Linked DNA regions of Homo sapiens. The protein of the gene in region 2 purifies or fractionates together with the protein of the main gene of each other region. This does not show direct contact. Each region holds a gene or a part of one and is shown on either strand. Other genes may lie near its edges.

The links.
Region 1: the proteins of PTPN18 (region 2) and BAG5 purify together in Homo sapiens (affinity purification with mass spectrometry; 2 studies listed by BioGRID and IntAct, with this or other methods). This does not show direct contact.
Region 3: the proteins of PTPN18 (region 2) and PSTPIP2 purify together in Homo sapiens (affinity purification with mass spectrometry; 4 studies listed by BioGRID and IntAct, with this or other methods). This does not show direct contact.
Region 4: the proteins of PTPN18 (region 2) and STIP1 purify together in Homo sapiens (affinity purification with mass spectrometry, with the first as the bait; 2 studies listed by BioGRID). This does not show direct contact.

The regions. Positions count from the first base shown.
Region 1 is NC_000014.9:103,559,658-103,566,497, forward strand, and holds the start of BAG5 (BAG family molecular chaperone regulator 5), read right to left. Parts: upstream 3,001-6,840; 5' UTR 2,959-3,000; intron 2,664-2,958; exon of another isoform or gene 2,256-2,663; intron 1,536-2,255; 5' UTR 1,508-1,535; coding exon 164-1,507; 3' UTR 1-163. Other genes in the region: COA8 (cytochrome c oxidase assembly factor 8), read left to right, coding at 3,345-3,467. UniProt on the Homo sapiens protein: Co-chaperone for HSP/HSP70 proteins. It functions as a nucleotide-exchange factor promoting the release of ADP from HSP70, thereby activating HSP70-mediated protein refolding.
Region 2 is NC_000002.12:130,366,039-130,373,063, reverse strand, and holds part of PTPN18 (tyrosine-protein phosphatase non-receptor type 18), read right to left. Parts: intron 3,932-7,025; coding exon 3,863-3,931; intron 3,300-3,862; coding exon 3,237-3,299; intron 3,017-3,236; coding exon 2,874-3,016; intron 2,508-2,873; coding exon 2,441-2,507; intron 2,360-2,440; coding exon 2,282-2,359; intron 2,190-2,281; coding exon 2,100-2,189; intron 1,866-2,099; coding exon 1,777-1,865; intron 808-1,776; coding exon 581-807; intron 192-580; coding exon 117-191; intron 1-116. UniProt on the Homo sapiens protein: Differentially dephosphorylate autophosphorylated tyrosine kinases which are known to be overexpressed in tumor tissues.
Region 3 is NC_000018.10:46,062,256-46,069,280, forward strand, and holds part of PSTPIP2 (proline-serine-threonine phosphatase-interacting protein 2), read right to left. Parts: intron 1-7,025. UniProt on the Homo sapiens protein: Binds to F-actin. May be involved in regulation of the actin cytoskeleton.
Region 4 is NC_000011.10:64,189,168-64,196,192, forward strand, and holds part of STIP1 (stress-induced-phosphoprotein 1), read left to right. Parts: intron 1-3,910; coding exon 3,911-4,120; intron 4,121-5,021; coding exon 5,022-5,163; intron 5,164-5,311; coding exon 5,312-5,453; intron 5,454-6,477; coding exon 6,478-6,646; intron 6,647-7,025. UniProt on the Homo sapiens protein: Acts as a co-chaperone for HSP90AA1. Mediates the association of the molecular chaperones HSPA8/HSC70 and HSP90.

The DNA.
Region 1 (6,840 bases), on a different chromosome or scaffold from region 2:
TTTGTCTTGCAACATCAAAAGCAGCAGATACTGAATAGAATTTGCTTCAATCATAAATACTGAGACTGAAATATGCACGTATAAATCAATGAACTGAAAGCTCTCTATACATAGAAGCACATATGAAGTGCAAAACAGTATCAAAAGTGAGATCTCTGGTATTTCAGTACTCCCATTCATCAGATTTCAGGTCGAGATAGCTGAGAATATTCTGCGCAAGCCTCACAGCTTGTTTCCTGGCAGCCTTACACTTCTCTTCTCCCTGCGGATCAACAGCATCCAGGGCTAGCAGCTGCTTGGTGAGCAGCTCTTCCAGCCGGATGTAGTTCTTATCGGTTCGATTTCCATCAAATGAAAGAACTTCTCCCTGGATCTCAGACAAGTTTCCAAGGACGTTCCAGACGGCTTTATGGGATGGGTGCTCCTCACAAGCAAACAGCTTTCTTTTCTCAAGGGCCTCCTTCAAGTCAATATATGTGATCAGAGTTTGCACCTCGATCACTGCTCTTCTCCTGGCTTCCCGGATGCAGGGGTTTTTTTCAAGACTTACCTCATCCAACTGTCCAATTAAACCCTGCAATTCTGTTTTGGAGCTCAGGTACAATTCAGAAGGGTTTTGTGCTTGGAGAAGTTCATTTTTTATTTCTCTCATTCTCTTGAGGACCTTTTCTATTTTTAAAATGGAATGATTCTGTCTCAGGTCAAATGCTTTAGTTGTGTCTGCTTCCTCTTCCAAATCCAGATATTTCAATAATTTGTTGATATCTTCTACTACCTCCCTCCGATAATTTCTGATTTCTGTCCGGCCGCACACATCTAGAGCATCCAGGTCAGCGATCAGCCCCGAGAGCACACAGGATAAGTGCCTGCAGGTCTCATTGTTGTTCACACCCATCAGAAGTGCAATCAGGACCCCTCGGGCCTTGTTCACCTCACACATCACGAAGTTGATTTTGGCAACGGAAGGATGTGCATCCTCGGAAAGCGGCAGGGAAGGCTGCTTTTTCATGCAGTCTTCGATTATCTCTTGCACCGCACAGATTTTGGTTAAAGTGTGATACCTTGCTTTCCGCAAGGAGATTTTTCCTCCAGTTTTAACATGTGTCAGCCTCAGAATGATATCTTGGATGCCTTCTTCAAACTCATCAGTTACGCAGTTGCCTCCATTATAAAATGGCACAATTTTCTCTCTCACGAGGGACTGGGCTTCCTCAAAAATGTTCTGTATTTCAATCCGGTGTGGGTGGTTTGCATTCTGCTCCAACTCTTTGAGAAGACGTTCTGTCTCCTGTGCTGCCCGCTTCCTAGCTTGCTGAATATCTCCTTTTCCTTCAGTATCTACAGAGTCTATTTCAAAAAGCTGTTTTGTTAGAATCCTCTCCAGTTTCTTGTAATTCTTGTCATCTGACAGACCACTGAAGCCGATAACTTGCTGTTCTACACTTTTTACTTCCTTTTGGATTTCCTGAAGCCTACTAATAGAAGGATGTTGGTTTCCCATATCCATACTTTTGTTGTGTTCAGTTTCACAAGCACTAAAAGACGACAAGAATGATAACTTACTACAGCACAAGGCTTCTGCAGAACACTAATGGTATATTAAGTCATTCTAAAATTCTCATTTTAAAAAGGTATACTTCTGAGCAGTCATCCCACCTCAGCCTCCCCAGTAGCTGGGTCTACAGTCGTACACCACTACGCCCAGCTAATGTTATTTTTAGTAGAGACAGGTCTCACTATATTGCCCAGGCTGGTCTCAGACGATCCGCCCGCCTCCGCCTCCCAAAGTGCTGGGATTAAGGTGTGAGTCACCGTACGCGACACAAACTATTTGGAACCAGCAGGGCACCTTTATGAAAGGTGAAACAGTAGCTCTTGTAACCTTCCGAACACTAACAGTACCCCGCCCCGCCACACAGCTATGCCTAGTTTCCAGAAACTCTAAGCAAAAGAAAGAACCAGAACAAAAACCAGTGGCTCTCAGACATCCCCAAGGTCCCCGCTTCTTCGTTTCTCTCCATCCCTTTGTGCACTTCCCCTCCCCACCCTTTTAGCTCCTCACACATCTTCCCTCACAGAAGTCTCCCTGAAGAGATTAAAACCCCACAGGTAAAGAAGAGCGACCGGGACAGCGCTGAAGGGCACCACCTTGGGCTTTCGAGGCCCAACACCTCCTCAGCCCCCAACATGCTCCACTCTCTCAAAAAAAAACAACCCGCGAAAACGTGGTAACTATGAATAATTCATTCACTCGCCTCCCACTGGGAGTCCACAATGGCCTAATGCACGTTTCAAGCTCTTGGTTTCTATCAAACGGCTCGCTCAAGGTGGGTAACCAATGGAAACGCATAATCTATCCCCGGCGGATGTCCTGGAGGCCACGGAGGGAAGGCGGCCCGAGCTGCTTCCTCCCCGCCTCGCCCTTCCCTCTTGGCCCTTTACCCAAAAGAAGTCTGAATTGGATGCGGTCTTGGCGTCCCGTGGCTGAGGTGGCGAGGTGGAAGATCAGCCCTTTACGGGGTGCGGCACCGGAGCTGGGCCCCCAGCTGCATGCCTCGCACCCCTCCCGACTAGGTCTGAGCGGGGCAGCCGGTGAAGGGGCCGCTACTGGCTGCAGCAGCCGCTCCGGGCGTCTTGGCCCGGGTGCCAGGGCGCGCCTGCAGGACGTGACCTCACAATGGGCGCGCGAGGGGAGCTCGGCCCGGCCGGGGGAAGCCGGGGGAGGAGGGGAACCGAGGCCCGGCCGGAGACACCAGAGACCAGGCCCGGCCAGCCCCGGTCGCTTCCGACCCCAGGGGCGGGGACAGCGCCGAGACCGACTCTGCCCTGCCTGATCCGACAGGCCGCACGGGGCTGGGCGCTGGCGAAGGGGTGGCCCAGCGGGGAGCCCCGCGCGGAGGTGGTGCCCCACTCGTCCCCCCGAGAGAGGGAAAAGGCTACAAGCCGCGCTTCGCTCACCTGTCCCGCCCGCGCCATCGCGCGATGCGTCGCCGACGCTTCCACGACTTCCGCAGCTCCGGCAGTCGCCCGGGCCCGGCAGCCCCGCCCCTGGCCGAACACCCCTAAACCCGGGGACACCTCCTCCGGCGTCCGCGCCTAGCCGCCGGCAGCGCCACGCCCACCGCCAGCGGCGCAGCGAGGCAGCCTGGAGTGACCGCGACCAAGGAGCGGCCGCCCGGGTCAGCCCGCGCCGCCCGCCGCCCCCTCACCCCGTCGCACCGCTGGGAAAGCGCACGGTCGGCCGCGCCGCCGCGCTTCCTCGGGCTTCGCGACCCTGCCGTAAAGCGGCCCCTCGCGCCGTCGCAATGCTGCCGTGCGCCGCGGGAGCCAGGGGGCGTGGGGCCATGGTGGTCTTGCGGGCGGGGAAGAAGACCTTTCTCCCCCCTCTCTGCCGCGCCTTCGCCTGCCGCGGCTGTCAACTCGCTCCGGAGCGCGGCGCCGAGCGCAGGGATACGGCGCCCAGCGGGGTAAGCAGGGGCCTGGGGACATTGGGCCGGGAGGGGTGACCGGAAGGGAAGACAAACCCGGGCCTCGGGGCCACTCCCTGTTCTGCACAGCCGCCTCAGGCCTTTGTCCAGGTGCTCTCGCGTCCTATCCCGAACAGTCCCGCAGCCCCGAGGCTCCCGCATCAACGCCCTCAGTCGGATGGGACTGAGGGTGCCGCCGCCACCACGCCGGGGACTGTTGACAGCCAGAACCTTTAAGCGTAACAGAGTCACCTGGCAAGTTTGTACCTACCTTATTTGTTCCCGAGAATGATTATTTTTTATTTTTAAAGAGCTCTTGGCTTACCGTGCGTTTTTTTTCGTTGTGTGTGTGTGTGTTTTGGCTTTGTTACAATTATTAGTGCTTTTCTTCAAGCGGCGAGCACTTTATCATCGTACTTTTGTAGCACTTCACGTTGAATAGTTGTTATTTGCAAACTATGTGTGGGTATATGCATGTTACTGGCCAAAGATCCGCAAAGAATGTCTGTAGCAAGAATGTCTGTGGCAAGCAATTTTTATAAGTGGTACTTTTGGGAGGGATGTTTTGTTTAAGGGAGGCCTAGGCCTTGATTCCGTCTGTCAGATGAAAATGTTGACTAACGGTGTGGAATGGGCTGGAGATAAAATATTCAAGCAAAGCATGCAAATACCAAACAGGCTAATGAAGGAGGCTGGAAAACTTGGTTTAAACAATAATTAAAGAAGTATTAAAAAAGTGTTAATTAAAAATTGGACGGGCTCCGTGGCTCACGCTTGTAATCCCAGCACTTTGGGAGGCCGAGGCAAGCGGATCACGAAATCAAGAGGTGAGACCATCCTGCCCAACATGGTGAAACGTCTCTGCTAAAAATACAGAAATTAGCTGGGCATAGTGGCGCGCGCCTGTAGACCCAGCTACTCGGGAGGATGAGGCAGGAAAATCGCTTGAACCCGGGAGACGGAGGTTGCTGTGAGTCGAGATCGCGCCACTGCACTCCAGCCTGGCGACAGAGGGAGACTTCATCTCAAAAAAAAAAAAGCTAATTAAAAATTGCAAATGTACTTGCTTGTACATTTTCATTTCTGTTGGGCTGTGGCTGTTAGTACACTTTCATAATTGTAGCTTTGAAGGTCTATCTAGTTTACAATTTAAACAAGGAGTTACCAGGGCAACTTGCCAACCAGACACCCAAGTGGCTAGCTCAGTTCTGTGTTACAGTGACCAAGTCCTTGCCTTCTATCCCTAGAACATAGAAACCCACCCAGCATCTCTATCTTTGGGCAGAAAGATAGAGCAGGTGTCTGAAAATGCTCTAAGAGAGCAAACGGGAAATCAACCAAGACATTTCCCGGGCGGGGGGGATTTTCCCTAGCTTATTTTGTGAACTTGTGCTGGAAAGAAACAACAGCACCCAAATAAGGATTTCTCTATTGTCATATACACTTCTTTTTTTTTTTTTTTTTTTTTTTTTTGAGTTGGAGTCTCCCTCTGTCGCCCAGGTGGGAGTACAGTGGCGTGATCTCAGCTCACTGCAACCTCTGCCTCCCGGGCTCAAGCGATTCTCGTGCCTCAGCCTTCCGAGTAGCTGGGACTACAGGGGCCCACCACCATGCCCGGCTAATTTTTTTGTATTTTTAGTAGAGACAGGGTTTCACCTGTTGGCCAGGCTGGTTTCAAACTCCTGACCTCAAGTGATGCGCCTGCCTGGGCCTCCCAAAGTGCTAGGATTACAAGTGTGAGCCACCACTCTCAGCCTTAGACTTCTTGTTAAAGTAAAATAAATCTTACCATGGGTCTGTTCTCAAGATGAGAGACCTCTCTGCCTTGTTCGTTTTTTCTTTTTTCGAGATGGAGTTTTTGCTCTGTTGCCCAGGCTGGAGTGCAATGGCGCAGTCTCGGCTCACTGCAACCTTTGCCTACTGGGTTCAAGCAATTCTCCTGCCGCAGCCTCCTGAGTATAGCTGGGATCACAGGCGCATGCTGCCACGCCTGGTTAATTTTTTTTTCTTTTTTTAGTAGAGATGGGGTTTCACTATGCTGGCCAGGCAGGTCTCGAACTCCTGACTTCAGGTGATCCACCCGCCTTGGCCTCCCAAAGTGCTGAGATTATAAGTGTGAGCCACCATGCCCAGCCAGCACCAGCTTTTAATTGAAAAATATTATAGAACTTAAGAGTCAGGCACCATTCTTCCTTCCAAATCCATCTTTAAAACTCAGCTTTTCAGAAATATAACTGCTTTTGGTAAAGAAAAAAAAATTAAGACTTTTAAATTCTGTTCCCTAGCCACTTCATGCCTGCTTATGTCTTACCTATGTAGTTTGCATCATTGGTTCCTAAACTTGTTTGCACGTAAGAATTAGTCTGACTCTTTTAGTTCTTTTTTTTTCTTTAATCCGGAAGTTCCTGAACCAGAATAGGTTCAGAGATACTCCCTTTTAGTTCTTTTTAATCCATAGGTTCTGCCTCCATCACCTCCCCACCTTTTTTTTTAATTTTTTTTTTTTTTTGAGATGGAGTCTTGCTCTGTCACCCAGGCTGGAGTGCAGTGGCGTGATCTCAGCTCACTGCAACCTCCACCGCCCGGGTTCAAGCAATTCTCCTGCCTCAGCCTCCTGAGTAGCTGGGATTACAGGTGCCTACCACCATGCCCGGCTAATTTTTGTATTTTTTGTAGAGACGGGTTTCACCATGTTGGCCAGGGTGGTCTTGAACTCCTGACCTCAGGTGATCTGCTCACCTCAGCCTCCCAAAGTGCTGGGATTACAGGTATGAGCCACTGTGCCTGGCCCAAAGTCACTTTTAGCTTCAAAAATGAGCTGTAGGGTATGCCTTCTTTTCCTGTTTCCGTGGATTGTTTACTAAGGTTTGAATTTTTCTGTGACTGGTAGAACCTACAAGTCATTTGAACCTGAGTTTTCATAAGAACAAGCCATTTTAACCCCATCTTCTTTTTGGTTAGAGTTTAACCCCATCTTCTTTCTGGTTAGAGTTACTAAACTGGTAAATAAGAGTGATCCGGCCAGGCATGGTGGCTCACACCTTGCCAGCACTTTGGGAGACTGAGGCAGGCAGATCACCTGAGGTCAGGAGTTCAAGACCAGCCCGGCCAACATGGTGAAATCCTGTCTCTACAAAAATACAAAAATTAGCCGGGCATGATGGTGGTACCTGTAATCCCAGCTAGTTGGGAGGCTGAGGCGGGAGAATCGCTTGAACCCAGGAGGCAGAGGTTGCAGTGAGCCGAGATCGCGCCATTGCACTCCAGCCTGGGCGATGGACCAAGACTCATTCTCAAAAAGAAAAAAAAGAGTGAGCCATTGCATATTGATTTAAACAAGACATCTGATAAAGTCTCATGTATTTTTGAAAAC
Region 2 (7,025 bases):
CTCCTGGTTCACTGCAGCCACATCCACAGGACTAAGCTCCATGCCCCATCAACCCCAGACTCCTGGGTTCACTCAAAGCAGCAAAGTCCCAGCAACCCAGGCTCTACCTGACTTACCTAGCCCACCGGTCTGAGCTCCACCCGCCACGTCCTCGTAGGCGCCAGATCCGGCAGGACTTTGGTCAGCAGGAACTGAGGGCAGCAGACCCCCCACGGGTCAGCTCCGGAAGCCCCAGGGAGTCCCAAGACCCCACCCCTAGCGGGGACGCTTCCCCGGAGGCCCGAAGGGGAGAGCCGAGGGCGCCGGGCGGGAGAAGGCACACACCCCGGACGTGGCCTCCAGCCTTTGGGCGCGGCCAAGACAAGTATTGCCAGGAACCCTGCCCCTGGACCGCGACTGCGACCGCCAGGGGGCGCTTCCGGGGCGTGGCCAGGGACGCCTGGACATCAGCGTCGGGGCGTGGCCAGGCTAGCGGCTGGGGTCCCCGCGGCCGCCAGGGCCTGACGGACCACTGCAGGATGGTTCCGCCCTGCGGATCACAGCAGGATGATGCCCTGAGAAGGAGCAAGCCTCGACTCACCGCGGCCAGGCAGCGTCCCCCTCGCGTCCTCCGCGTGCGCCCCGGGTCGCTGGGCGCGCGGCGTCACCTTGCTGTAGAGCGGCGCCTCCTCCGCGCTGCGCGCCCCCGTCCCCGTCCCCGTCCCCGTCTGCGTCCCACTCCCGGCGCCCGCTGGAGCCCCGCGCTTCTGCACCACCGCGTAGGTGTCAGCCATGGCGTGGCCCGGGGACCCGGGCACAGAGATGCTCCTGCAGGCAGGGAGGGCCGGGAGGAAGTGAAACGGCGGCGCTGGGCAGGGCGGGAGTGGGGAGGCTGCTCAGCGCGCAAACCACGGGCTTCCTTCCCGCCGAGGCGGTGCGCTAGATGGGAGGGAGGGCTCCTTGGGTTGGAGGCCTCGCTTCTGTGTCCCTAGCGCCCTGCAAGTTAGGGGGATGAAGGAGGAACGGGGTCAGCCTGGAGGGTAATTTGGGGCAGAGTGTTGGTTTGAGGGGTGGTCATTTCTGTGTCAACGTCTACTGAACAAAAGAATGCGGAAGTGGCATAGAAGACAGGAAGGGATGGCCGCAAGGACAAGGGCCTTAAGTCTCCGCTGCGAAGGCGGCTCAATCCCATGTCCGCAGCACCCAACGTGCGGCCTGACAAGAAGGCGGCGTCTAGAATTATTTGCTGAATTTTTTTTGTTGTTTTTTTGAGACAGGATCTCGCTCTGTCGCCCAGGCTGGACTGCCGTGGTGCGATCTCGGCTTACTGCAACCTCCACCTCCCGGGCTCAAGCGACTCTCCTGCCTCAGCCTCCGGAGTAGCTGGGATTACAGGCTCTCACCAGCACGCCTGGCTAATTTTTGTATTTTTAGTAGAGACAGGGTTTCACCATGTTAACCAGGCTGGTCTCCAGCTGGGCTCAAGTGATCCGCCCTCCTTGGCCTCCCGAAGTGCTGGGATTACAGGGGTGAGCCACCTGAATTAAGGTTTGATTAGAGGATCCAGGAAAGGCCTAACTCAGAAGGCAGGGCAAGCCTTAGAGGCAGAGGCAAGGGGTAAATGAATCATCTTGGGATAATTGAATCATCTTGGGGTGGGTTCCCAGAGCTCAATTCGAAGAAAGGGCCAGCGAACACTTGGCGAAGTGAACAAGGAACGGACTGGTGTTCCAAGGATGAAGAAGGGGTTAGCCTGAGAAATTGGGCAGGGAAGAATCCGGGGATGGAGCCGGGTACCTGAGGACCCCTCCTGGTGGGCGGGGTATGGCGAGAAGTGCCTGGGGAGTCCGGAGGAAGAGGGCATCGTCGTAGAGTGGGGCACAATTCTGAAGAAAAACAGGAGGGGAGGCTCCTGAGGGAGGAAGCTGGCCAGGCCTCTCAAGGGGCTCTGGGAGAAAGCTTAAGATGGGAGAGCCTGATAAGGATGCCTGGAGGAGGGCACAGGTGGATGTCATAGTCAGTGCCTGCTCCCAGTAGTCCCGGGGGCTGGACCCTGCTCGGGGTCCTGGTCTCTGAGGGTGCTGATGGTGGACAGGAGAGTGGGAAAGGAGCCTCTGTACCTCTTTGATGTTCTGGTAGTGGGGGCTGGCATTCTGGAGTGTGGAGCAGAACATCTGAGCCACCGTGTGGTACAGGAACCTGTACTGCTCCTGTTGGGGTGAGGGACCATCAAGAAGGGAAGGCAGGGGCAAATGACAGCAGTGGGCCACTGTCCCTGAAGATTAGGAGACCCAGGGTTCACCTCTGTCTGCACGGCCGCAGGCCGCTGCTTCCTCATCTTAAGGACCACATCAAAGAGACTGAAGTCAGGTGGGATCATCTGGGGCAGACAGACAAGGCACTTGAGCAGGACACGTGGTCATGGGCAGCACACTGCACACACAGGATGCCTGTATCGTACCTGGGTCAGGAGCAGCTGCCTCACATAATCCACGGTGCACAGGACGCCTGTTCGCCCACAACCCGCACTGACAAGAGAATCAGAGTGTGCCTGGTCAGGTCCTGACCACAACCCCTTTTAGATGGGGCATTTGGGGATGGGGGTGAGGGTCCTGATGGATCCCCTGCAGAGCCTCTTGATTCCCAGAATCTTCAGATTATATCTGAACAAGGAAAACCTTTTTAATCACTTACATTTTGTTGAGCAAGAGCTGTGTGCTTATTCCCCAGCTGAGTCTGTGCTGAACAAGTGCTCACAATTACAGTCCATGGAGGGTGAGCAAGGGTTCTCAAAATAGGCACTCAGACTACAAGACTAGCCCCATGCCCTGTACTCCCCTCCATGCTCTGTCCCCTCTGCCTCACCAGACCCTCCTGAAGCCCATTTCCAAAACCTGCAGTGGACACAGAGGGGTTCAGGGCCAGATCCCTGGAGGCGACGGGCTTCCTCCACCATGGCGAGCATGTGGTCAGGACTGCTGGGGACCCCACGGTCTGGCCAGGACATATACTGTAGCTGGTACACAGAACGGGACTCCTGAAACACAGAAAAAGATGAGCAAAAGACTTAGGAAAAAAAAGAAAAAAGCATTAATTGGCCATCTACTATACACCAGGCCCACTTCTAGGCATCTTCCATTTATGTCTACCAGACAATAACTGAGGAAGTGGGTACTAGTATGATGCCCATTTTTACAGGAGAGGAAACCTCTCCCCTTTCAGGAGCCCCTTTACCTCCTCCTCCCCTGTCACAGTACCTTCTGGAATGTGACCTTGAGGGTCCTGAGCATGATGTCCTCATTCAGCCACTTCTCCTTTATCTGAGTAAGGGGGGTGGGGCAAGTAAGAAGAGGGAGGAGAACAAAGATCATAGGTACCAGAAGACATTTATAGAAAGCAAAGCATTCCTGATTAAAAAATCAAATACAGAAAACATTTTAAAAATTCATATAGCCCAAACTTTCCCCAAAGCTTTCATTAAGGAAACATTTGACACAGGAGCAAAAGAGGAACTATTATAAAAACACAAGCCCTTTTGCAATGAAAAGAGATGTCTTTTGTTCTAAAATGAAACTTTTATTGCATTTATTAAGTACTAACTGTATGTATGACTTGAGAGAGTTCCCCAAGCTCTTTTGAAATGGTAAGAGAAGTAAGAATTTCAACAACCTAACCAGGCACATTTACATGACAGAGATTAACTGATTGTAGCCAAAATAAAAATGCAAAGGCTATCCCTATAGTAAGTTCTAACTATTTGCAGGCTAACACCAGAGGGTTTCCTGCAGTATGAGTGGACTGTGGGTTAAATCATTCAACCTTTTAGGCCCAACCCAAAGCCTTTCCACCCTGGGAATCTTCCTTGAAAACTCCCACAGCTCACCAGAGTGATGCAGAAAAGCCCAGTCTGCAGTGGCTCCTGCTCCTGGGCCCAGTACCGCTCACACCTTTTCTGCAAAAGGTAAGGGAGAAAAGGCAGGGAGTGAGAAGAGGGAGTCAGCTTCAGAGCTAGCTCAATCATGCCACAAGACACCCCAGGTGCTCGTGGTGGAAGCACAGGCAGCTATACTTATAACCTATAACAGACGCCAGCCAACAGAGCCATCAGATTAAACACATGCAGACTCAATGGAGGTGCGCTGCTGACCATGCAGGGGAAATACAGTCCAGGATACCCTCCCACTGTAAGCAACTAGAAACTGGACAAAATACATGAGCCACTATTTTCAGACACTGGTTGGCAGGTGTTGCAGTACTGTGGTCACTGAACAGACCACTCCGGCTTATTGCATGGAAGTGTCACCAGGCTGTAAGACATGAGTCTAATGATCCCACTGAGTTGAGCCAGAGACCATGGCTCAAGGAGGCAAAAGCAGCTAGAATTTGCAGGGCAGAGTCCTGGAAGGAACAGAGGTATGCAAATAAAAACAAAACAATAACTTGCATAGAAGTCCCCTCCTTGATTCTTTGGTTGAATAATCTGAATATATACAACATGAAACCCCATGAGGCCAGGCAAGAATAACTTACCATGAAAGAATAGTAGGGATCTGTAGGATGAACATTTCCTTGAGCTCATGATGAGAAAGAATTCACATTCCCTCTAGCTAGAGTGTAGAGGCATTATCAACTATAAGGGGCATTTAGTAGGGAACCTAGAATGACCACACATTAGAAGTACGGCTAAATTAATTCTAGAACAAAGGCTACTTGATCAACCATCCAAAAGTTCCTGAAAAGGCAAAACACTCTAAAGAAAACAATCCAACACTTACCTGTGCAAAATTCAAAATATCAAGCATCCAATAAAATTTTGCTGGACATACAAAGAAGCAGGAAAGTGTGACCCATAACCAGGAGAAAAATTAGTCAATAGGAAAGGGCCCAGAAATAACAGTTCAGGAAAGAAGCAAAAATCTTAAAATGGCTATTACAAATACACTCAAAGATGAAAAGGAAAACATGAACATGATGCAGAGTGGAATGAAAGATACAAAAAATAACCTGAATGGAATTTATAAAGAGGAAAAATAAAATATATGAAATGAAAAATCCACTAATAGCAGGGTAGACACTAGAAGAAAGGATCAATAGACATGAAAACATAGCAATATAAATAATTCAAAATGAAATGAAAAAAATGAAAAAGAATCAGTTCTCTGTAGAAATATACCAGTCTAGTGTATGTGCACGTGGAGTCCAGAAGGAAAGGAGAAAGGGGGATAACAGAAACTTTATGTAAAGAAATAATAGGTGAAAATTTTCCCAAATTCGATGAAACTATGAACCCACAAATCCAAGAAAGTCAATGAACCAGAGGGAGAATAAACCTAAACCTAAAGAAAGTCACGCCAAGGCAGATCATGATCAAATTACTGAAAAAGAATGAAGAAGAGAAAAAAAAATTTTTTTTTGAGACCCTTGCTCTGTCACCCAGGCTTGGCGTGCAGTGGCTCAATCTCGGCTCACTGCAACCTGCAACTCCCAGGTTCAAGCGATTCTCCTGCCTCAGGCTCCTGAGTAGCTGGGATTACAGACACACACCACCATGTCCAACCTTTTTTTGTATTTTTAGTAGAGACAGGGTTTCACCAGGTTGGCCGGGCTGGTCTCGAACTCCTGACCTCAAGTGATACACCTACCTTGGCCTCCCAAAGTGCTGGGATTACAGGCATGAGCCACCACACCAGGCCCCAGAAGAGAAAATCTTAAAAGCATTATGCACAAAAGGACACATCACATACTGAGGAACAAAGTTAAGAATTATAGCAACATTTTGTCAGAAACGGCAAGTCAATGCTATGATATCCTAAAAATGCTGAAAACCTTTTCAGACAAATGAAAGCTGAGGGAATTCATCACAAACAAATCTGCATTATGAGAAATATTAGAGTAAGCTCTTCAGATGCTTACAGACAGTGGCTGCTCCAGCTATTTGAGAGGCTAAGGCAGGAGGATTGCTTGAGGCCACTTCAACACCAGCCTGAGCAACATAGCCTGTATCTTAAAAAAAAAAAAAAAAAAAAAAAAAAAATTAAAATTAGCTAGGTGTGTTGGCAACATAGCTAGCCTGTATCTAAAAAAAATCTTTTTTAGTTAGCTGAGTGCAGTGGCACACCTGTACTCCCAACTACTTGGCAGGCTGAGGTGGGAGGATTGCTTAAGCCCAGGAGTTTGAGGCTGCAGTGAGTGGTGACTGCACACTGCACTCCAGCCTGTATGACAGAGTGAGACCCTATCTCTTAAATAAATAGAATAAGTAAGCTCTGCATACAAAAGGAACGTGATACAAATGGAAATACAGATCTACACAAAATAACAGGGAGAAAAGTAAGTGGCTAAATGTAAAAGATATTTCATTTTAAACATCTTTAAAAGATAATCTAGTGAATTTTATCAAACAAAGAGGAATTAATACCAGCCTTTCACAAACTCTTGCAAAAAACTGAGAGGAACCATTTCCCAACATATTGTATGAGGCTAGTATTACCCTGGCACCAAAACCAAAGACATCACAAGAAAAGAAAACTACTAACCAATATCTCACAAACATAGACACAAAAATTCTCAATGAAGTACTAGCAAAGTATTAAACACCATGACTAAGTGGGATTAATTCCAGGAATGCAAGATTGGTTCAACATATGAAAGTCAATGTCATACACCATATTAGTAGAATACAAAACACACGATCATCTGAATAGATGCAAAGAACAAAATTTGACAAAACTCAACAGCGTTTCATAAAAAAGTTCATTAGAAACTCAGTGCCCAGGATTTTTATTGGGGCACCGTCTGCACAGAATGTAGGCACACTCTGCCTAGCCTGTACCAAAATGTCAGACTACCAGCAGGAGAACAGGTGTTCTGCATAAAGCATATTGTTTGTATTAACAGTTCAGGCATAGTGAGCCACTGTTATCAGAAACCTAGGTTTCTAGAGGCCACCCAAGAGTCAACCTTACAGGAAGGCCTTTCTAAGCATAAACATTTATGCTTGCCATGTTTAACTCTTCTGCACAGCAGGGGACCTACCCAAAATAGCC
Region 3 (7,025 bases), on a different chromosome or scaffold from region 2:
TTCCCCATCTTGTTGCATGCCTGGTGCCATTTTAGCACTCTTCAAGGAGTGGTACCCTATCGCACTCACCCAGCCAGACTTGTCCAAGAATCTTGCCCTGGTATGCTAGGCATGGTGGCTCATGCCTGTAATCCCAGCACTTTAGGAGGCCGAGGTGGGTGGATCATGTGAGGTCAGGAGTTCAAGACCAGCCTGGCCAACATGGTGAAACCCCATCTCTACTAAAAAGAAAAAGAAAAAGAAAAAGAAAAAGAAACTTGCCCCAGTAAACCACTTTTTTTTTTTTGGAGACGGAGTCTCGCTCTGTCACCCAGGCTGGAGTGCAGTGGTGCAGTCTCGGCTCACTGCAACCTCTGCCTCCCAGGTTCAAGCAATTCTCCTCCTGAGTAGCTGGGACTACAGGCACATGCCACCACACCTGGCTAATTTTTTTCTACTTTTAGTAGAGACGGGGTTTCACCGTGTTAGCCAGGAAGGTCTCAATCTCCTGACCTCGTGATCCACCTGCCTTGGCCTCCCAAAGTGCTGGGATTACAGGCAGGAGCCACCATCCCGGCAGGTAAACCACTCTTTTTAGCCTGAAGGAGAGTAGGTCAGTCTGTTTCCCATTAGTGTCCTACATCTTTGTTTGCTTCCTTAAGAAGAATGTAGGACCCTGAGGGCAGGAATCCACCTCCTCCTCATTTTGCAGGTCCACACAGGTCTCTGACTTCTGCAAATGTCAGAACACTTAAGCCCTCATACTCAAAAGACAGTATTTTTAGTGAGACAGCGTCTTGCTCTGTCATCCAGGTTGCAGTGCAGTGGTGTAATCACGGCTCGCTGCAGCTTCAACCGCATGGACTCAAGTGATCCTTCTGCCTCAGCCTCCTGATTATCTGGGACTGCAGGTACTGGCCACCATGCCTTGCTAATTTTAAAATTTTTTTTGTAGAGACAGGGTCTCAATATGTTGCCCAGGCTGGTCTTGAACCCCTGGACTCAAGCAATTGTCCCACCTCGGCCTCCCAAAGTACTAGGATTATAGGCATGAGCCACAGCGCCCAATCATAAGACACATATTGAGTAAAACTTGGACCACAGAAAACCTCGAAGTGTAATAGAAGAAATCACAAAACTTTAGATCAATAAACTTGACTGTATAAAGTGTTTTCAAAATCCATATACATATATCATTTTACAGATGAGGAGGCAAAGCTGAGGAAAGCTGAATAATTTGAACACGGGCACACACATTCTTTGGCTTGAAAGGAGCCAAACTGGGAATCAAACCCGGGAATGTCCAGTGCAAAAGCTTGAGGGCCTGAGGACTGCCTCTCACTGTGTCATGCCTATACTGGATGTTAGAACATGTGAATTACACACACACACACACACACACACACGTGTATATATACAAAAATATATATTTTAAAATATGCATATAAATTTACAAGCAAAGCATGAGGAAGAAAACAAAACCATTTGTAAAAGAGGAATTACAAGAAAATAACCAAATGTGCACTCTCCCTGGTGATAAAAACGCAAATGAAAGTTGAATAAGGCACCAAGTTTTGCTTATTGAATGAGCAGAAAAAAAGACAATAGCTATGACTGACAGAGTGAAACTAGCATCCGCACATACTATTGGGAACACTGAGAATAGGCCCACTCTTTAGGAAATCATCCTGGTTCTACATATCAAAAGTTTTTCAATGTCCTTCTGTTAGTTAATGGTTTTTTCAGTCATTCAGTAGGTATTACTGAGAATCTGTCATGTGCCAGGCATTGAACCAGGCACCACTGGAGTAAGCAGACAGGAGTGTGGGTCCTCACCCCAAGGGCAGCCATGCCAGCCCTGGAATGACCAATCAGGGGCTTGTAGATGAGAGAGAAATAAACCTCTTCCTTGTCTAGGCCACTGTTGTTTTGGGGTTTTCTATTACTTGCAGCCAAACTGAATCCTATTTATACAGAAGGTAAGTGAGCTTTCACCAGCTGCTCTGGTTTCTTTTTTCTTTTCTTTTTTTCTTCTTTCTTTTTCTTTCTTTTTTTTTTTTTTTTTTTTTTTTTTGAGACAGAGTCTCATTCTGTTGCCCAGGCTGGAGTGCAGCGGAGTGACCTTGGCTCACTGCAACCGCCCCCTCCCAAGTCCAGGCGATTCTCCTGCCACAGCCTCCCGAGTAGCTGGGACTACAGGCACCCACCACAACACCTGGCTAATTTTTTTTTTTTTTTTTTTTTAAGTAAAGACGGGGTTTCACCATGTTGACCAGCCTGGTCTCCAACTCCTGACCTCAGGTGATTCACCCGCCTGGGCCTCCCAAAGTGCTGGGATTACAGGCATGAGCCACCACGCCCAGCCCTGCTGTCTGGTTTCTTAATGGAGTAGAGGCAAGATCACCAAAACACAGTGAGAATGTGGGAGGGATGTGTAGGTTTGAGTGGAAAAGGCATGAAATTATCACTGCAGAAAGGGCAAGAGTGACTTATTAGAGAAACATAGTAAAATGGCTGGGCAATGATGAGTTCTGTCTTGAGTTTCCAGAAATAGATACTTAAAGAATCCCAATTTTAAATACCTTACACGAATGACATGCACCACATTCTTTATTATAGAAAACACTGGGCCGGGTGCGGTGGCTTATGCCTGTAATCCCAGCACTTTGGGAGGCTGAGACAGGCAGATCACCTGAGGTCAGGGGTTCAAGACCAGCCTGACCAACATGGAAAAACCTCATCTCTACTAAAAATACAAAATTAGCCAGGCATGGTGGTGCATGCCTGTAATTCCAGCTACTTGGGAGGCTGAGGCAGGAGAATTGCTTGAACCCAGGAGGCGGAGGTTACAGTGAGCCGAGGTCGTGCCATTGCACTTCAGCATGGGCAACAAGAACGAAACTCTGTCTCAAAAAAAAAAAAAAAAAAAAGAAAAGAAAAGAAAAGAAAACTCTAGAAATTACATAAATGCCAAACAGTGACAGAATAGTTGTATCACTCACAAAACTTTTCTAAATAATTGTTAGGGAAAGTAGATAGCAATATATAAAATAAGTTATAATTTTTTTTTTTTTTGAGATGTAGTCTGGCTCTGTCGCCCAGGCTGGAGTGCAGTGGCATGCTCTCAGCTCACTGCAAACTCCGCCTCCTGGGTTCAAACGATTCTCCTGTCTCAGCCTCCCAAGTAGCTGAGTACAAGTGCCCACCACCATGCCTGGCTAATTTTTGTTTTCGGTTGTTTGTTTGTTTTGAGACGGAGTCTCACTCTGTTGCCCAGGCTGGAGTATGGTGGTGTGATCTTGGCTCACTGCAACCTCCGCCTCCCGGGTTCAAGTGATTCTCCTGCCTCAGCCTCCCGAGTCGCTGGGACTACAGGCACCCACCACCACGCCCGGCTAATTTTTGTATTTTTAGTAGAGACAGGGTTTCACCATATCGGCCAGGCTGGTCTCGAACTCCGGACCTTGTGATGCACCTGTCTCAGCCTCTGAAAGTGCTGGGATTACAGGCGTAAGCCACCGCGCCCGGCCAATTTTTGTATTTCTTTAGTAGAGACGAGATTTCACCATGTTGGCCAGGCTGGTCTCAAACTCCTGATCTCAAGTGATCCACCCGCCTTGGCCTCCCAAAGTGCTGGGATTACAGGCATGAGCCACTGTGCCCAGCCAAAGTTACGATATTTTAATTAAAGCAGTAGAATACAAGATAGTACAGATACTATAGGATTATAATTATGCATGGAGGAAAAAAGTTGGGAAAGTACCAAATCACTAATAATATATATTTTAATAACCTTAATTTTATGTTAATATTAAAAACTATTGGCCAGGTGCAGTAGCTCATGCCTGTAATCCCAGCATTTTGGGAGGCCAAGGCAGGCAGATTGCTTGAGCTCAGGAGTTTGAGACCAGCCTAGGCAATATGGTGAAACAGCGTTTCTACAAAAAATACAAAAATTAACCAGGCGTGGTGGCATGTGCCTGCGGTTCCAGCTACTTGGGAGGATTGCTTGAGCCCAGGAGTTTGAGGCTGCAGTGAGCCGTGATCGCACCACTGCACTCTAGCCTGAGTGACAGAGCAAGACCCTGTCTCAAAAATAAATAATTTAATTAAATTAAAACTACTGTTTTAAAATTTCATGTTGAGACTCATCTTCTTGAGTAGCTAATAATCTCTTAGAGGTGAGATGTTGTGTGTCTGTCTCTCTGTGAGCCCACAGCAGCTACCACAAGGCTGGCCACTCAGACTTCACATAGACATTTGCTGAGTTGAACTGCCTGAGATTACGTGGGGAATGGAGAAGAAGTTCCTCTCTTCAACAAGTTGCTGTGTTTTCTCCGTTGGTCACAAGGTCTCTCACCAGAAGGTGAGCCCCACGTGTGTGGGCTTTGTGCTGCACCCCTTCTTGAGTATAGGGCTTCTAAAGAAGCCAGAGCCCGTCCTTAATGATATTCTCCTCATGCAAGACCACCAGCCAGTCACAGCAGAACAGTTTCTTTAAAAGGGTGGAACAGGCCGGGTGCGGTGGCTCACGCCTGTAATCCCAGCACTTTGCCCAGGCGGGCGAATCACCTGAGGTCAGGAGTTCCAGACCAGCCTGCCCAACCTGGTGAAACCCCCGTCTCTACTAAAAATACAAAAAATTAGCCGGGCGTGGTGGCGCATGCCTGTAATCCCAGCTACTCGGGAGGCTGAGGCAGAAGAATCGCTTGAACCCGGGAGGCAGAGGTTGCAGTGAGCCGAGATCTCGCAACTGCACTCCAGCCTGGGCAACAAAAGTGAAACTCCATCTCAAAAAAAAAAAAAAAAAGAGGTTTTTGACGATTATTTTAAAGCTAGCTCCCTCCGGCTGCTCTACAAAGAATGTATGGGAGAGCAGGTAATTGTTCATGACTCTATCTTCCCTTTTGCCACTAGGCAAGACAAAAGGAAACAGCCCTCCTGGTGTGTTTCTGGGGACCAGATTGTCAAATTAAATTCGACCTAGGCTGGGCGCAGTGGCTCACTCCTGTAATCCCAGCACTTTGGGAGGCCGAGGCGGGCGGATCACGAGATCAGGAGATCGAGACCATCCTGGCTAACACGGTGAAACCCCGTCTCTACTAAAAATACAAAAAAATTAGCCGGGCGTGGTGGCGGGCCCCTGTAGTCCCAGCTACTCAGGAGGCTGAGGCAGGAGAATGGTGTGAACCCAGGAGGCAGAGCTTGCAGTGACCCGAGATCGCACCACTGGACTCCAGCCTGGGCAACAGGGCGAGACTCTGTCTCAAAAAAAAAAAAAAAAAATGTTGGCCTAAAGCTGCCTCCATAAATAGCAAGCCACAACCTAACTTAGTGTGTAAACAAACCGTAACCTAACTAAGAGTATATTCTTGTAACAAGTAGCTGGGTCTCTGCCAATCATAACAGGGGAGCTTTCAGCCAATCCCAGGCTGCAGACTGCCCAGTCAAGTCCAAATAAGGCAACCACCCAGGTGTAACCAATCAGGCTATTTCTGTATCACCTCTTTTTTCTGTAAGTATTGCCTGCCCACTTTTGCCTTGTGGAGCTCTCTGAACCTTTACTGGTTCAGGGTGCTGCCTGATTCATGAATAGTTTCTTTGCTCAGATAAACTCTGCTAAATTTAACTAGTCTGAAGTTTTTCTTTTCATAAAATCCGAGAGAGTATTTAAAAATTACAGCAACAATCTAAACATTGTACAAAATACACTATGGGGTCAGCAGGGAGACTCTGTGGTGTTAACCTGTATTCTTTCTGTATTTTTTTTTTAAAGCAGCCTCCTATATTTATCTAGAGCACTGTACAGTCAGTTCTCCATATCTGCATCCATGGATTCAACCAACCACAGATGAAAAATATTCCAAAAATTAAAAAATAAAAATATACCAATTAAAAAATACAAATAAAAAATACAGTGTAAACAACTATTTACATAGCATTAACATTATATTAGGTATTATAAGCAATCTGGAGAATACTTAAAGTATACAGGAAGATGTGTGTAGGTTATATGTAAATACTACACCATTTTATAGAAAGAATCTGAGGACAGGCATAGTGGCTTACACCTCTTTTTTTGAGACAGATTCTCGCTCTGTCGCCCAGGCTGGAGTGCAATGGCACGATCTCAGCTCACTGCAAGCTCCACCTCCCAAGTTCACAGCATTCTCCTGCCTCAGCCTCCTGAGTAGCTGGGACTACAGGCGCCCACCACCATGCCCGGGTAATTTTTTTGTATTTTTAGTAGAGACGGGGTTTCACTGTGTTAGCCGAGATGGTCTCGATCTCCTGACCTCGTGATCCACCCGTCTCAGCCTCCCAAAGTGCTGGGATTACAGGTGTGAGCCACCATGCCCGGCCGGCTTACACCTCTTATCCCAGCACTTTGGGAGGCCAAGGCAAGAGGATAGCTTGAGGCAAGGAGTTTGAAACCAGCCTGGCCAACATAGCAAGACCCAATCTCTGTATTGAAAAAGAAAAAAGAAAAGAAAGGACTTGAATGTCCATGAATTTTGGTACCTGCATGGGAGTCCTAGAACCAATCCCCTACAGATACCAAGAGATGACTGTATAGAGAAAAACCATTGAGCAAAGCCAGAGGCAACATCAGTTCAAACTCTGCTAAGGCTCCAGAATGACAAGATTCCAATCTGGTAAAAGGTTTGGATGAGAGTGACAGCCTTGTGTTGACAGCAGGGCAATGAGCCAGTTCAGACAGCCCCAAGACTTTCCCTAGTCAATCCCAGGCAGAGAGAAGCCCTGCCCACTACAGGAACAGGGTTGCTGAAACAGCAACTAGGAAGCTGGTCTACACCAAGAACCTTGGGAATCAGGAAGGCCCAGGAAAAATAAGTATCTACAGGAGGTTCAGGGACGATTTGGACCTCACACCCAAGTGAGAAGCCTGGAAATCCCCAGGGGTGAGAGAACACTGCTTTCATCTACCCTTCCAAAACGGGTCCCACTGTCACCCGTGCATGCCCGTATCTGAAGGACACTGGTGTCTGATCATCCCAAAAACTGGAATTTTTTCTCATTGTGGC
Region 4 (7,025 bases), on a different chromosome or scaffold from region 2:
CTGGCCAATATGGTGAAACCCTGTCTCTATTAAAAATACAAAAATTAGCTGGATGTGGTGGCACGCGCCTGTAGTCCCGGCTACTTGGGAGGCTGAGGCAGGAGAATCGCTTGAACCCGGGAGGCGGACCTTGAAGTGAGCCGAGATTGCGCCACTGCACTCCAGACTGGGTAACAGCGAGACTCCGTCTCAAAAAAAAAAAATAAATAAATAAGCGGACATTGTGGTGCGCGCCTGTGGTCCCAGCTACGTGGGAGGCTGAGGCAGGACAATTGCTTGAACCTGGCTGGTCGAGGTTGCAGTGAGCCAAGATTGCGCCACTGCCCTCCAGCCTGAATGACAGCGAAACTGCATCTCCAAAAAAAAAAAGTTGGACAGATTTTGAATGTTCAGGCTTTTTTTTTTCAATAGGGGCCTTTCAAATCCCACAATGATACACTTCTTACATTTAACCCAACACAGGCGTACAGCCATGTAACACATTCAGCAAAACAGTATTTACTGTTATGTGCACTGTGTGCTGGTATTTTTTTGTCCCATTTGGTCTCTTAAAATGCTGGTCATGACCTACAAAATTGATTTCCTGACCCACTGTTGATCAGTACTCTGTTTGAAAAATGCTTTTCTAAAGCATAGGCAGGAACTTCACCAGCTGCCTCTTGACACCACTTGAGTTTTGTTAACTCTTCGTCTTCTGGCCTCCATCTTGGGCTCTAGGATTTTTTATCCCTTGTTTGCTTAATTTGGCAGGTTCCTTCTGCCCTTGCCTCTGTAAGGTCTCTGATTGATGGAAGTTCCTGATCTCTCTATTTGAGGATTCCAAAATCATTTCTCTCTTTTTTTTTTTTTTCCAAATAGAGTCTCACTCTGTCCTCCAGGTGAGAATGCAGTGGTGCAATCTCGGCTCACTGCAGCCTCCGACTCCCAGGTTCAGATGATTCTCCTGCCTCAGCCTGCTGAGTAGCTGGGACTACAGGCATGCACCACCACATCCGGGCAATTTATTTATTTATTTATTTTTTTGAGACTGAGTTTCGCTCTTGTTGCCCAGGCTGGAGTGCAATGACGCAATCTCAGCTTACTGCAACCTCCGCCTCCCAGGTTCTAGCAATTTTCCTGCCTCAGCCTCCCAAGTAGCTGGGATTACAGGCATGCACCACCACGCCCGGCTAATTTTTTTTGTATTTTTAGTAGAGACGGGGTTTCTCCATGTTGAGGCTGGTCTCGAACTCCTGACCTCAGGTGATCTGCCCACCTTGGCCTCCCAAAGTGCTGGGATTACAGGCGTGAGCCACTGCACCCGGCAGCAGCTAATTTTTGTATTTGTAGTAGAGACGGGGTTTCACCATGTTGGCCAGGCTGGTCTCGAACTCCTGACCTCAGTTAATCTACCCGCCTCAGCTTCCCAAAGTGCTGAGATTACAGCCTAAAATCATTTCTCTTGACAAAACTATTTCTTGCATCAATTTACTGGGTCGTGGGTGGATAATACATAGAATGAGTTAGTAACTTCGGTGACAACTCTATCTCACAGAACGTTTACCTCTTAAAAGTGTATTTTGGCCTGGTGTGGTGGTTCACCTTTGGGAGACTGAGGCAGGAGGGTTGCTTTAGGCCAAGAGTTTGAGACAAGCCTGGGCAATATGGTGAGACACCATTTCTACCACAAAAAGAAAAAAACATTTAGCCAGGCATGGTGACACACACTTGTAGTCCCAGCTACTTAAAAGGCTGAGTTGGCCGGGCGCAGTGGCTCATACCAGTAATCCCAGCACTTTGGGAGGCCAAGGCAGGCAGATCACCTGAGGCCAGGAGTTCAAGACCAGCCTGACCAACATGGAGAAACCCCGTCTCTACTAAAAATACAAAATTAGACGGATGTGGTAGTGCGTGTCTGTAATCCCAGCTACTCAGGAGGCTGAGGCAGGAGAATCGCTTGAACCTGGGAGGCAGAGGTTGTGGTGAGGCAAGATTGTGCTATTGCACTCCAGCCTGGGCAACCAGAGTGAAACTCTGTCTCAAAAAAAAAAAAAAAAAAGGGCTGAGTCAGGAGGATTGCTTGAGCCCAGGAGCTCAAGGTTACAGTCAGCTGTGATCATGCCACTGCACTCCAGGCTGGTAACAGAGTGAGATGCCATCTTTAAAAAAAAATAAATATGGCCAGGCGCGGTGGCTCACGCCTGTAATCCCAGCACTTTGGGAGGCTGAGATGGGTGGATTAAGAGGTCAGGAGTTCGAGACCAGCCTGGCCAACATGGTGAAACTCCATCTCTACTAAAAATACAAAAATTAGCTGGGCGTGGTGGCGGGTGACTGTAATCCCAGCTACTCAGGAGGCTGAGGCAGGAGAATCGCTTGAACCTAGGAGGCGGAGGTTGCCGTGAGGCAAGATTGTGCCACTACACTCCAGTCTGGGGACAGAGCAAGACTCTGTCTCAAAAAATAATAATAATAAATACAATGAGCTTCTCAAGGGGTTGCCTGCCCTCAGGTAGGCTGCTGTGGGGCACCTGACCTTTTGTGGGGCAGCTCAGTAAGGAGAAACCCTTTAGTGAGGACACTGTTCTGACAGGGCCAAGGCCTGCCTCACTTTTTTTTTTTTTTTAATGAAAAAGTAAAATTTAATGTGGAAAATGCAAACTTGGGGAGGGCAGAAAGATCACACACAAGGCTGTCACTTCACACTTGGAGGGTTGCACAGTGGCCCAACAGAGGCACACCTCACTTGCCAGACGGTGGGGCAGGTGGGCAGAGGTGCTCCTCTCTCCCCAGTCAGTTGGGTGGCCGGGCAGAGGCGCTCCTCACTTCCCAGTCGGTGGGGCGGCCAGGCAGAGCTGCCTCACTTTTTAAAACTGCTGTATCCCACCGGGCGCGGTGGCTCACACCTGTAATCCCAGCACTTTGGGAGGCCAAGGCGTGTGGATCACCTGAGGTCAGGAGTTTTAAGACCAGCCTGACCAATATGGTGAAACCCCGTCTCTACTAAAATTACAAAAATTAGCCAAGTGTGGGGGTGTGCGCCTGTAGTCCCAGCTACTTGGGAGGCTGAGGCAGGAGAATCGCTTGAACCTGGGAGGCGGAGGTTGCAGTGAGCCGAGATCGTGCCACTGCACTCCAGCCTGGGTGACAGAGTGAGACTCTGTCTCAAAAAACACAACAAAACAAAACCCCGCTGTATCCTTACTTCTTGCACTTTATATGTTTGAGAAGGGAGAGGTTTAAACCACAGTAGCATTTCTTCATCCTCCATCCCCTTTGTAATGTAATATTTAAGAATGGCAGGAATCAATTTGGGGAGCTAGCTTGACTGTTACCCATTAATGAACATTTATCTATCCTGTGGTGACATGTTGCCACACCAGGAAATGGAGACTGGTTCTTCCCTGATGGGAGGAGATGACAACTATGCCATAGGCAAGCATCTTGCCGCTCCCAAGAAAGAGAAGTCTCCGCTGCCATCCCACAGCCTTTGGGTCACTGGAGCATGTATCAGTGCCACTCCGCCCACCTTCTTCCTGTGAGGGGTGACTAGGGCTGTGCTCTGTTTGTCATTTGGATGCTTTGGAAATCTGTGGCAAATGAATTGACTTTTCCATGGAAGGAGCATGTGGCACATTCTGGAGTGGCTTCGTGAGCTCCATGTGGAGACCGGAAGAGTGGCAGAGCCCTCGTTCGTCACATGGGGGCCAGCGTGGAGTGCAGCCTGGGCTCTTTGCCCCTGCTTATTTTTTCTTTGCTGGCTCCTTAGGGAAGGTGTGAGAAATTAAATAAATGAACCGGTTTTCTCTCTTCTGATCTGTAAAGTCACCTATTTATTTGTTGGTAACTACATGAAAGAATGAGTGTTGTCTTTAAAGCTTGGGATTAAATGGGCACATCATAGAGAAGCTGTGTGTTCCTTTCCCCTCAGGTCAATGAGCTGAAGGAGAAAGGCAACAAGGCCCTGAGCGTGGGTAACATCGATGATGCCTTACAGTGCTACTCCGAAGCTATTAAGCTGGATCCCCACAACCACGTGCTGTACAGCAACCGTTCTGCTGCCTATGCCAAGAAAGGAGACTACCAGAAGGCTTATGAGGATGGCTGCAAGACTGTCGACCTAAAGCCTGACTGGGGCAAGGTCAGCTGTGGGCAGTGGAGGGAGAGAGGCCCTTCAGACCCTTCCAGAAATGCCTTTTGGTGGCCTGAGGTTTACCTGTCCTGATACACTGATAGTTACCTACCCACCTCCCTGTTTGAGTATCCTCCTCAGAAATGGCATTTTTCATCAAATCTAAGGTAGCCATTAGTTGTAATACAGGCTTTATTTTTGGTACTAAGAAGGAAGAGGCCAGGGCTGGGCGCGGTGACGCACGCCTGTGATCCCAACACTTTGGGAGGCTGAGGTGGGCGGATCACTTGAGGTCAGGAGTTCAAGACCAGCCTGGCCAACATGGTGAAACCCTGTCTGTACTAAAAATGCAAAAAAATTTAGCCAGGCATGGTGGCATGTGCTTGTAGTCCCATCTACTCAGGAGACTAAGGCAGGAGGATCACCTGAGCCTGGCAAGCGGAGGTTGCAGTGAGCTGAAATCGTGCCACTGCATCCAGCCCAGGTGACACGGCAAGACCCTGTCTCAAAAAAAAAGGAAGAGGCCCGGTACAGTGGCTCACGCCTATAATCCCAGCACTTTGGGAGGTTGAGGCAGGAGGATTACTGGAGCCCAAAGGTTTGGGACCAGCCTGGGTAACATAAGGAGTCCCTGTCTTTACCAAAAAAATAAGGGAAAAAGTGTTGCCAAAGAAACTGACCACAGTCGATCAGAGGTGAACAAGGCGGGGCGGATGTGCCTCTGCTATTTGGATGGATCCTTACAGTAGCAGCCTTGGCCTCGTAGCCTACTCCTCTCCTTTTTTTCTCTTTGGCCTTCATGTGAATACTCATTTTTCCCCCATAAAAGTAGAATTGTTCTTTTTTGAGTTCGTCTTCTAGATTTACCTCTGGGTGTTCTCTATTTTGTGTCTGTCTTTGGTGGTTTAAGGGCTATTCACGAAAAGCAGCAGCTCTAGAGTTCTTAAACCGCTTTGAAGAAGCCAAGCGAACCTATGAGGAGGGCTTAAAACACGAGGCAAATAACCCTCAACTGAAAGAGGGTTTACAGAATATGGAGGCCAGGTTGGCAGGTAGGTACCACGCACAGTTTTCTTTCTTATTATTAATGTGATTAATTTTGAGTCTTCACCCCTGAGAAATGTCAGTCTGGTAGGGTATGGGACACAGTAATTCTAGTGAACTCATTTCATAGTGATGTGCTTTCCTTTATTTGGACAGAGAGAAAATTCATGAACCCTTTCAACATGCCTAATCTGTATCAGAAGTTGGAGAGTGATCCCAGGACAAGGACACTACTCAGTGATCCTACCTACCGGGAGCTGATAGAGCAGCTACGAAACAAGCCTTCTGACCTGGGCACGTAAGTGGACGCCGCTCACTGAGGTTCTGGAAATCGGGGAATGTTATGCTTTCTTCCTGTAACCTCACAGCAGAGGGTTCCCTGGTCTAAACTGCAGAGTTTTTGCCTTTGCTTATTCTCTGCAGAGCAGTAGGTGGTGGTCGTTTATTTGTAATTATAGAAAGGGTCAGGGGAGCATATTTCACAGTAATCTAGAATGTTCTTTGTCATCTGTATACACCTCTCTCCTGCTCTTCTAGAACTCTGATCTAGCGTCAACCCCATCCTTTCCATCTACTTAGGCCCTACTTTCTCTGTTGGTATATCAGAGTGGAAACAGGGTTGAAGTTCATGTGTAAAGATGTGTCTAAATCTTGTACTGGTATTCATCTCTATCAATCCTCTGGCTCCTGAGATCAGCTACGGAAGTATACCTAAAACAACTCATTCCTCTGTGTATCTGCTAACCTTGAGGAATAAACTTGACCTCTGTGACTTCATTTTATTTTATTTTATTTTATTTTATTTTTTCAAGATGGAGTCTCGCTCTGTCCCCTAGGCTGGAGTGCAGTGGTGTGATCTCAGTTCGCTGCAACTTCCACCTCCTGGGTTCAAGCGATTCTCCTGCCTCAGCCTCCTGAGTAGCTGGGATTACAGGTGTACGCCACCACGCCCAGCTAATTTTTGTATGTTTAGTAGTAGCGGTGGGTTTCACCATGTTGGCTAGGCTGGTCTCAAACTCCTGACCTCAAGTGGTCTGCCCGCCTCGGCCTCCCAAAGTGCTGGGATTACAGGTGTGAGCCACCGTGCTCCGCTATCTGTGACTTCATTTTATTTGTTTTTGTTGACTCTATTTTAGATAGTGTTTTGACGGTTTGAGTATTTCTCAATTGTAACTCATGAGTGGTGCAAAATCTAGCCATCTTTTGATGGGTGAGGAGCTTCTAAACACAAGAATCTGACTTTAGTAGTAAGTGGGAGTTAAAAGACTAATTGTGGGGAGGAGTAATTACAATTTTTCTTTATTTTTTTAAATCAATACTAGGAAACTACAAGATCCCCGGATCATGACCACTCTCAGCGTCCTCCTTGGGGTCGATCTGGGCAGTATGGATGAGGAGGAAGAGATTGCAACACCTCCACCACCACCCCCTCCCAAAAAGGAGACCAAGCCAGAGCCAATGGAAGAAGATCTTCCAGAGAATAAGAAGCAGGTCTTGTTTTTTTCTCTCCTCACTGTCACCTATCTATAAACAACTAGAAATCTTTATGTTGAATGGGGACATCTGTTGACCTTGATTGACCATGATTATTATGGTTTTTTTAGAGACGGAGTCTTGCTGTGTTTCCCAGGTTGGTCTTGAACTTCTGGCCTCAAGCGATGCTCCTGCTTCAGCTAGGATTACAGTCACGAGCCACTGTGCCCACCTAAAACTATTTTGAGTGCTTTAGTATGCGCTAAGCTTATGGCTATTATTCATTAGAATGGCCAGCATGTTAAAAAATCAGCTTCAGGCCAGGCACGGTGGCTCATGCCTATAATCCCAGCACTTTTGGAGGCCAAGGTGGGCAGATCACCTGAGGTCAGGAGTT